Regions from separate parts of the Homo sapiens genome. Here region 1 is linked to region 2. The links come from fine-mapping of genetic effects on gene expression. A gene starts in region 2. The other region holds a variant in brackets. All regions are shown on one strand. Distances are between the middles of the regions.

What was found. PIP is the estimated chance that this variant, and not a neighbour inherited with it, causes the effect. A credible set is the group of variants that fine-mapping cannot tell apart.
Region 1: its variant is the best candidate, but not a certain one, in a credible set for the expression of THAP10 in whole blood (TOPMed, PIP 0.89).

The regions. Positions count from the first base shown.
Region 1 is chr15:70,930,710-70,934,709 of GRCh38, reverse strand. All of the region lies in intron 7 of LRRC49 (leucine rich repeat containing 49), which reads right to left. Among named protein-coding and RNA genes, the nearest start is that of LRRC49, 40 kb to the right of the region's middle. The variant T/G (reference allele first, on the strand shown) is at 2,108.
Region 2 is chr15:70,890,008-70,894,007 of GRCh38, reverse strand. THAP10 (THAP domain containing 10) reads left to right here and starts at 1,575. Exons shown (of 3, transcript NM_020147.4): 1 at 1,575-2,164. The coding sequence starts at 1,736. LRRC49 (leucine rich repeat containing 49) reads right to left here and starts at 1,182. Exons shown (of 16, transcript NM_017691.5): 1 at 1,066-1,182; 2 at 368-424. The coding sequence starts at 1,113. RefSeq lists an enhancer at 1,222-1,920.

The DNA.
Region 1 (4,000 bases), 41 kb before region 2:
CATCTTCAGAGATTATAAACACCTTCTAAGACATAACTTTTTTCAATAAAAATAGAAAACTCAAATTCCATCAGGATATAATTTGTGAGAAAAAGTTTTTTAAGTTTATTTGACAAAATTATAATTATTTAATCTCTGTTTATGAGACAAAATTTTACGTCTTTATCAAATTTTAAAAATCATTAAATGTCATTGCCTAGTAGAGTTATCAAAAATATAAAAATATTCACAAGTTGAAACACTAAAATGCAGAATTCAATTCTATATATCCTCATAATCACTTACATAGATACCCTTTCCAGAACTTTAAAAAGCAAATAATTATACACAATCATTTTTCGTTGTTCCAAATTTCATTTCTGTAAGAAAATGTTAACTTTTCTCCAATTTTTTAGCAATTCTGTGATATACTTTTGTAACAAAATTCTAGCATTATAATAGACAAAAAGAAAACACCGTATTTACCGTATCAATTATCTATGCATGCATTATTTACAGAAGAAAGACCTGTTAAAAACTACTAGGGGATGGCTCCTCTAATATAAGAGAGTAAACAAAAGATGGGATATATATAAGATTCAGGGAGTACAATTCATCATCTAGGAGAGGCAAAGAGAAATCCAAGGATGAAATCTGTATAGCAGGGCTAAATGCAAGCAGACTTCATTAGACAGGGGACAGGAGGCTCTAGAAGGGTATCTCCAAGAGGTAAAAATGAAACACAGATCACCTGAAGTCTTTGCCTATACAGAAAGGGATTTTAGGGTTTTGTTGGAGAGTTTGGACATTAATGATAGTTAAACAAGCCCTAAATTGAGACAGCTATTAATCTCAGGGAAAACAAAAGTTTAACATCATGGTCCAAGACTCACTTTGAAAACCTCACCGTGCTTTGTCAACCATCCTAATCTATTCTATCATAAATGTATCCATTTTCATTAAGCCCCTGCATTGAAAGACCCACCCTAAACCAGAACCCCAAGAAATTTCAAACTAAATCTCCTGTCTCTGCCTTCGAAGATACAGCCAAGGCTATGTCAAGGCAGTGTGCTTTTACTTGCCAGTAGTAATTTCTCCTTTGCTTTATCAACTAGTCATTCTGGCGGTACTCTGCAGGAGCCAGCACTCAACAATCTGCTTACCTAAAAATTATTTCGGAATGACAGGGAAAGTGGAAATGGGGGTTAGGGATAATGTAAGAAAGGTAAATTCTCATCTATTTAAGAAAAAGTATTTATTTTACTGTCAAGCATTAAATACCCCTAACATATCCTTTCTGGAGGTAACTATTTCAGCATCAGAGAAACTATAACAAAGAAGCCAGAATGTTAACATACCTAAGATGAGAGGGAAAAAAATGAAATAAAATGTTTACATGTAGGGGAATATTTATAGCTCGTTATTAATTTCCTCATTATCTTAAATTTATTATTTTTAATAAAACATAATACTGAAAATAATATTCAAAACATTTTTTGAAGTAAAATTCAAAACTATTTTATGTATTTGGAAAATATAATCTTTTAAAAAATAGAAAAAATTATTTACCACAAGATTATTTGAGAGGATTATAATTCTTTATTTTCCAAAAAAATACTGATTTGTTTTCTGAGAAAAATGCTTGTCCTACTCTGCTCAGGCACTGTTGTCCATATCCCTAAACTGCATAAAAGAACTAAATGGCCAGGTGTGGTGGCTTGTGCCTGTAATCCCAGCAATTTGGGAGGTGAGGTGGGTGCATCATTTGAGATCAGGAGTTCGAGACCAGCCTGACCAGTGTGGTGAAACCCCATCTCTACTAAAAATACAAAAATTAGCCAGGCACGGAGGCGTGTGCCTATAGTCCCAGCTACTTGGGAGGCTGAGACGGGAGAATTGTTTGAACGAGGGAGGCGGAGGTTGCAGTTAGCCGAGATTGCGCCTCTGTACTCTAGCCTGGACAACAGAGCAAGACTCCATCTCAAAAAAAAAAAAAAAAAAAAAGACAGAGAAAGAAAAAAGAAAAGAAAAGAACTAAATGATTCAGCAATCTGATCACGTGGGGAATATCTATCACTGGAGCTATTTTTAGAGCAGCTTCCTCTAGAGGAATAAGGAAGAAGAAAGG[T/G]GAACAGATTTTGACATGCACCAAGGATTCTGACATGCAACAAGTAGGGCAAAGATGTCTATAATAAAATCATAGCTACTCTCATTTTTACTATGTAGGCTTTCATACAAAACAAGTTAGAGTAAAAATATATAGGGGTAATTATTCTAACTTTGAGAGCTGTAAACAGATTCATTCACAAAGCATCAAACAAGCTTGGAAACAAAAAACAATGAAGTATTCCTTTTTAAAAAAAAGACTTATTAAATTAATTCCAAAATAACTACTTGCTTCACCTATCACTTTGTGACACAGACACTTATTATATGAGGACTAATAGCTGCAAGCCATCATATTAAAACTCTAATCATATATATAAATGCCAATGAAAAAAGTCCATTATTTGGCAGTTATCCAAAGGCATTAATGGGTTTATCTGGTTTTTGTACTTGTTTACTACCCATTACACAGCAATAGATATCAGTCAATTCACCAGTCTGATTTTCTTCTACACACTGTTTTAATACCCCAGAGCAAAAACTGAAAGGGAACTTAAAACCAGACCAGTAAGAAGGCACTGATATGCTGACTAATTAGGGAAATGTCCAGTCTTTATAATCTAGGAGAGCTAGATTTAACAGCTTTGAGGAAATCAATAAAAAGCCTCAATTTCATAACCATAGGCTTTCCCTCACTGGAATTTACAGTTCAAACTTACATCACAAACATAATCTAAAAAGACCCCTCATAAAAAATGGTACCTGGCATTCATGACCCTAACACTCCTGGCAAAACTGTCTAGAAGGACACGAATTCAACTCAGGCTTTGCAACATCCTGACTATTCCAAACTATTAAACTATAAAGAAAAAATTACCATGAGTAACAGTCAGTAGAACTTTCAGGCAACAGATGAAGAAATGCCAAAAAATTAAGAAAATATAGTAACTTGATAAAGACTATGGAATATTTATCTTTAAATTTATAAGAGCAATGAAAAAAATTAAAAACAAGAAAAAATAAGGTACATGCATGCCTCGTTTAATTATGCTTTGCAGATATTGTGCTTTTTTTTAAATTTTACAAATTGAAGGTTTGTGGCAATCCTGTATCAACCAAGTCAGTGCCATTTTTCCAACAGCATGTGCTCACTTCGTCTCTAGGTCACATTTTTGTAGTTCTCACAATATTTCAAATTTTATTATTATTATATTTGTTATGATTATCCGTGATCAGTGATCTGTGATATTACTATTGCAATTGTTTTGGGGCATCACAAACTGTGCCCATAGAAGGTTGCAAACTTAATCAACAAATGTGTGTTCTGACTGCTCCACTCACTGGCACTTCCCCCATCTCTCTCCCTCTTCTTGGTCCTACCTTTGCCTCGAGGCACAACAATATTAAAACTAGGCCAATTAATAACCCCTACAATGGTCTCTAAGTGCTCAAGTGAAAAAATGAGTTACAAGTCTCTCACTTAAAATCAAAAGCTAGAAATGGTTAAGCTTAGTGAGAAAGTCATGTTGAAAGCTGAGATAGGCTGAAAACCAGGCCTCTTTCACCAGCTAGCCAAGTTATGAATGCAAAGGAAAAGTTCTTGGAGAAAATCAAAAGTGCTACTCCAGTGGAACACACAATTAATAAATAAAAACAATAGGAAGAAAGTTTGAATGGTCTGGAAAGATCAAACCAGCCACAGTATTCTCTTAAGCCAAAGCCTAATCCAGAACAAGGCCTTAACTCTCAACAATTCTATGAAGGCTGAGAGAGATAAGGAAGCTGCAGAAGAAAAGCTAGAAGCTAGCAGAGGTTGGTTCATGAGGTTTAAGGACAGAAGCCATCTCCAGAACATAAAAGTGCAAGGTGAAGTAGCAGCAAGTGCTGATGTCAAAGCTGCAGCAAGTTACCTAGA
Region 2 (4,000 bases):
TGGGAGGATCGCTTGAGCCTGGGAGGCAGAGGTTGCAGTGAGCCAAAATTGTGCCACTGCACCCCAGCGCCCCAGCCTGGGTGATACAGCTAGACCCTGTCTCAAGAAAAAAAAAAGTGTAAATGTCAAAAAAAAAAAACAAAAAAACCCTTACCCTTTTGTAATCAATAAAATCACATTAAGTTTTTTAAAGAGGGCTATTTTAGCTTTATGTAGGCAGAAAGTAAGAACTAGCTTTAAACTGGAAATCAAAGCAAATCTACTTAAATTTTTCAGTTTAGAATCTATCTACACTTTAAGTCATGCTGCTATTTGTGTAGAATTTAAAACAATCTTCAATTTAAATGCCAACCTTCTTAAATCTTACTTTGTTTTTTTCAGGAAGCGATGATGTTTGAATAACCAGATGAAGCCCGCAGTTCACCTGAAATGTAAAAATTAAACCATAAAATTTGCTCTTAATACACAAACACATATTTCCAAAAAAAAAAAAGGTACAAACAGAAATACAACAAAAAAATAGAACACAATGCTCTATTTCTGTTTCTGGTAAATGATCTTGTTCTGAGGATTTGCTGAAAACAATAAAATCACATCTAAGAATTAAAAGGTTTCACTGATTTATTTTCCAAAATGTCGGCAGCAATTTAACCCTCTAGTTAGTACCTCAGGCTTTCGACATTTGCCATTCAGGTCTAAATAAACATCTCAATGAGACAGGTGAAGGAGGTGGGAGTCCCTAATGATAAATTCTCTTCACAGTTAAAAGGAAAAGAAAAGAAAAAGGAATTGACTGGCCAAAGGAATTTAAATAAACCCAAGCCTTTCACAGCAGACCAGCTCCACCTTCTGGGGAGCCCAGATCCTGGACAAGACTTTGAGTACCCATCATACAATATTAAATTGTGCCTTGGTCCAGCCCACGAACCTCAAACCCTGGTCAGACAATAGCTTGAGTAGACCCAGCGGTGCCGGTCCTAATAATACAGCCCATCTCCTAGGACAAAGACGCCAGTCAGAAAGAGTACCAGTGGGAAGAAAGAGAAAGTAGAAGGCCCAACTTACGTTGTTCGCAGCCCGGCCAGAAACAGAGCGATATTTCCCGGGAATCATGATAGGAGACAGTCCAGGTTCTCTGTTAGATCTGCCTTCCAGGTGACGCTACAGCGGAGATTCAAAGAGACCCGAAAGAGGTCATCTCCCAGGCAACCTGCTCAGGGTTACCATGGAAACGACCATTTCCGGTCTGGACCTCTCCCGAATCGATAGAGCCACACAGTCGTTGCAGCTTCTAGTTGTATTCGTGAGAGCCCAGTGCGTCACCACTTCCTCGTTCTATTTTCCCAGCCTCATAAAAACAGAGCGGGAGTATTGGGAGGAGGATAAGCTGGGGAAGAGGCTGGCCACACTGGTTGCTATAACCACCACCACTTCCGGTCCGTTCCTCTTTACGGCCCACCTCAGCGCTGCCCGCGCGAAATTTGTATCCCTCTGCTTGTGTCCACTGGCTCCTGGGGAGCAGCGCAGGGAGGAGGAGGAGGAAGATATCAAAGAGCCCTCCCATTGGGGGCCCCAGATCGCCACTTCCGGTGACCAGAGGTAGGGAAGGAAACAATCCCGACCCGGAGTGGACAGGTGAGGAGGGGAGGACTTGCCTCGCCGAGGCCGCTGCGAGGAGCGTGCCCAAGGGCGAAGGTCCAGGGAACCCGGCTCCCGCGCACCGAAGACGGCCGCCATGCCGGCCCGTTGTGTGGCCGCCCACTGCGGCAACACCACCAAGTCTGGGAAGTCGCTGTTCCGCTTTCCCAAGGACCGGGCCGTGCGGCTGCTCTGGGACCGCTTCGTGCGGGGTTGCCGCGCCGACTGGTACGGAGGCAATGACCGCTCGGTCATCTGCTCTGACCACTTTGCCCCAGCCTGTTTTGACGTCTCTTCGGTTATCCAGAAGAACCTGCGCTTCTCCCAGCGCCTGAGGCTGGTGGCAGGCGCCGTGCCCACCCTGCACCGGGTGCCCGCCCCGGCACCTAAGAGGGGAGAGGAGGGAGACCAAGCAGGCCGCCTGGACACGCGAGGAGAGCTCCAGGCAGCCAGGCATTCTGAGGCTGCCCCAGGTCCAGTCTCCTGTACACGCCCCCGAGCTGGGAAGCAGGCTGCAGCTTCACAGGTAAAGAGAGACCACCGAAGGTTGTGTAAGGACCCCTGGACTCTGGCTGGGCTCCTCCACTTAGTGTCACCTTGGGAAAGGCACCTCATCTCGAAAGTTCCTGTTTTCTAATCTGCAAAGTTAGGGGTGTGCTTTAGAGGTGATCTCCAAGGTCCCACTTATCATTAACACTTTGGAATTAAGTGACCCAGTTAATTCCTTCTAACTGCTCCTCCCCCAAAACTCACACACACACACACACACACACACACACACACACACACACACACACACACAGAGTCTTGTCCTGCAGAGTAGTGAGTTGCTTTCACTCGCTGCTCCAGAGTTTTTAAATAGAAAGGGTTTAATTTGAGCAAATCTCCAGGATTGGAGTGCTTGAAACTGTGTTGCATAACATTACATAAGCTTGAGGAAAGTCCCTTATTTGTGTCACAAATGATGGGGCGAAGGAGATGTGGAGCTACAGATGAAGATGATGGAGCTTGCTAATAAATCCCTTCCCACCCCAAGCTTCCTTTATGACTGATAACTAGCTCCAGCTGCCTTTAAGTTCAGTATCCCTAGTGAGCTGACTTTCCCCATCTTGCTCTCTTCTGCCTACTTTTCTGTTCCTTCTAAACATTGTTTGCACTCATTTTGCATCTGGTTACTACTACCTTCTTCCCCACGTACCATTTTAAAGAAAACTTTCCAGCCTTCCTTGTGATAAACTTCAGCCTTGCCACCATTACACAGATTAAATTATAGCAAGAGGTTAGTAATTTCCTCAGGGGTCTGTAATCCTTACTTAGGTCCGGTTGCCAGACCAACACTCTTTCTGCAGTACTAACCTGCTTCCTACATTGGGGTGGGTATTTAAGACCCTTTAATGGCATCTTGCAATTATTAAGATAAAGAGCAAAATTATTAACCCAATTTACATGGCCCTGCATGTTTTTTCCCCCTGCATACCACACTAGCCCTAACCAAGGCCACTGTCCCTGTTGCTCACTGTGTACCATCATGCTGACCTTTCAGTTCTTGGACATACTATACTATATTACTTCCTACCAACAAGACTTTGCTCAGTTGTTGCATGTATTATAATATCCTGGAACTATGCCCCTCCCACTCCCATCATTGCCAATTAAGTCTTTTTCCCTTAAAAATCAGCTAAACATCTTTCCCCTTGATCCCTTAGTTATGTACTCTCATTCTTCGTGTACTCCATGTGATTCAATAGCACAGATACTTCAGTAGCACTTACCATAATTGCCATGAAATAATTGTGTAGTTTGCTTAATATTTGTTTCTCATATTAGAATGTAAGCTCCATGAGAGCTAGGATCATGTCTGATTTCTTTGCCATTGTATTGCAGTGCCTAAAACAATATTTTACAAATTTAAGTAATTCAATAAATATTTATGGAATGATTACATGACTATAAGAACAAATTTTTGCATTATAATTGAATTTTCAATTATCTGCCAGTTTCCCTCCTCACCAAGCTGTATACCTGTCAAGATAGCTGTCCTTTCCTTGAACCATCTGTCCACCATCACCACCTATACAAACTTTGCCCAAACATATACATCCACATACATATATATGTGTGTAGCAAGAGAGATAAATACTAAACATGTGCCACACACATCCCCCTACACCATTTTTCTTCTTCATAATTACACAACCTAATCAAAAATTGGGAGAAGAAAAGCCAAGCTAGTCAAACAACCAAAGTCTTTATAACCCATAAAAACTAACCGTTGGGAAACAGATCCAGCATACATAATAAATCTGTTTTCCATTTAGTAAGTATAACCAGCCAACATTTATAACAATCCATAGTACATTAA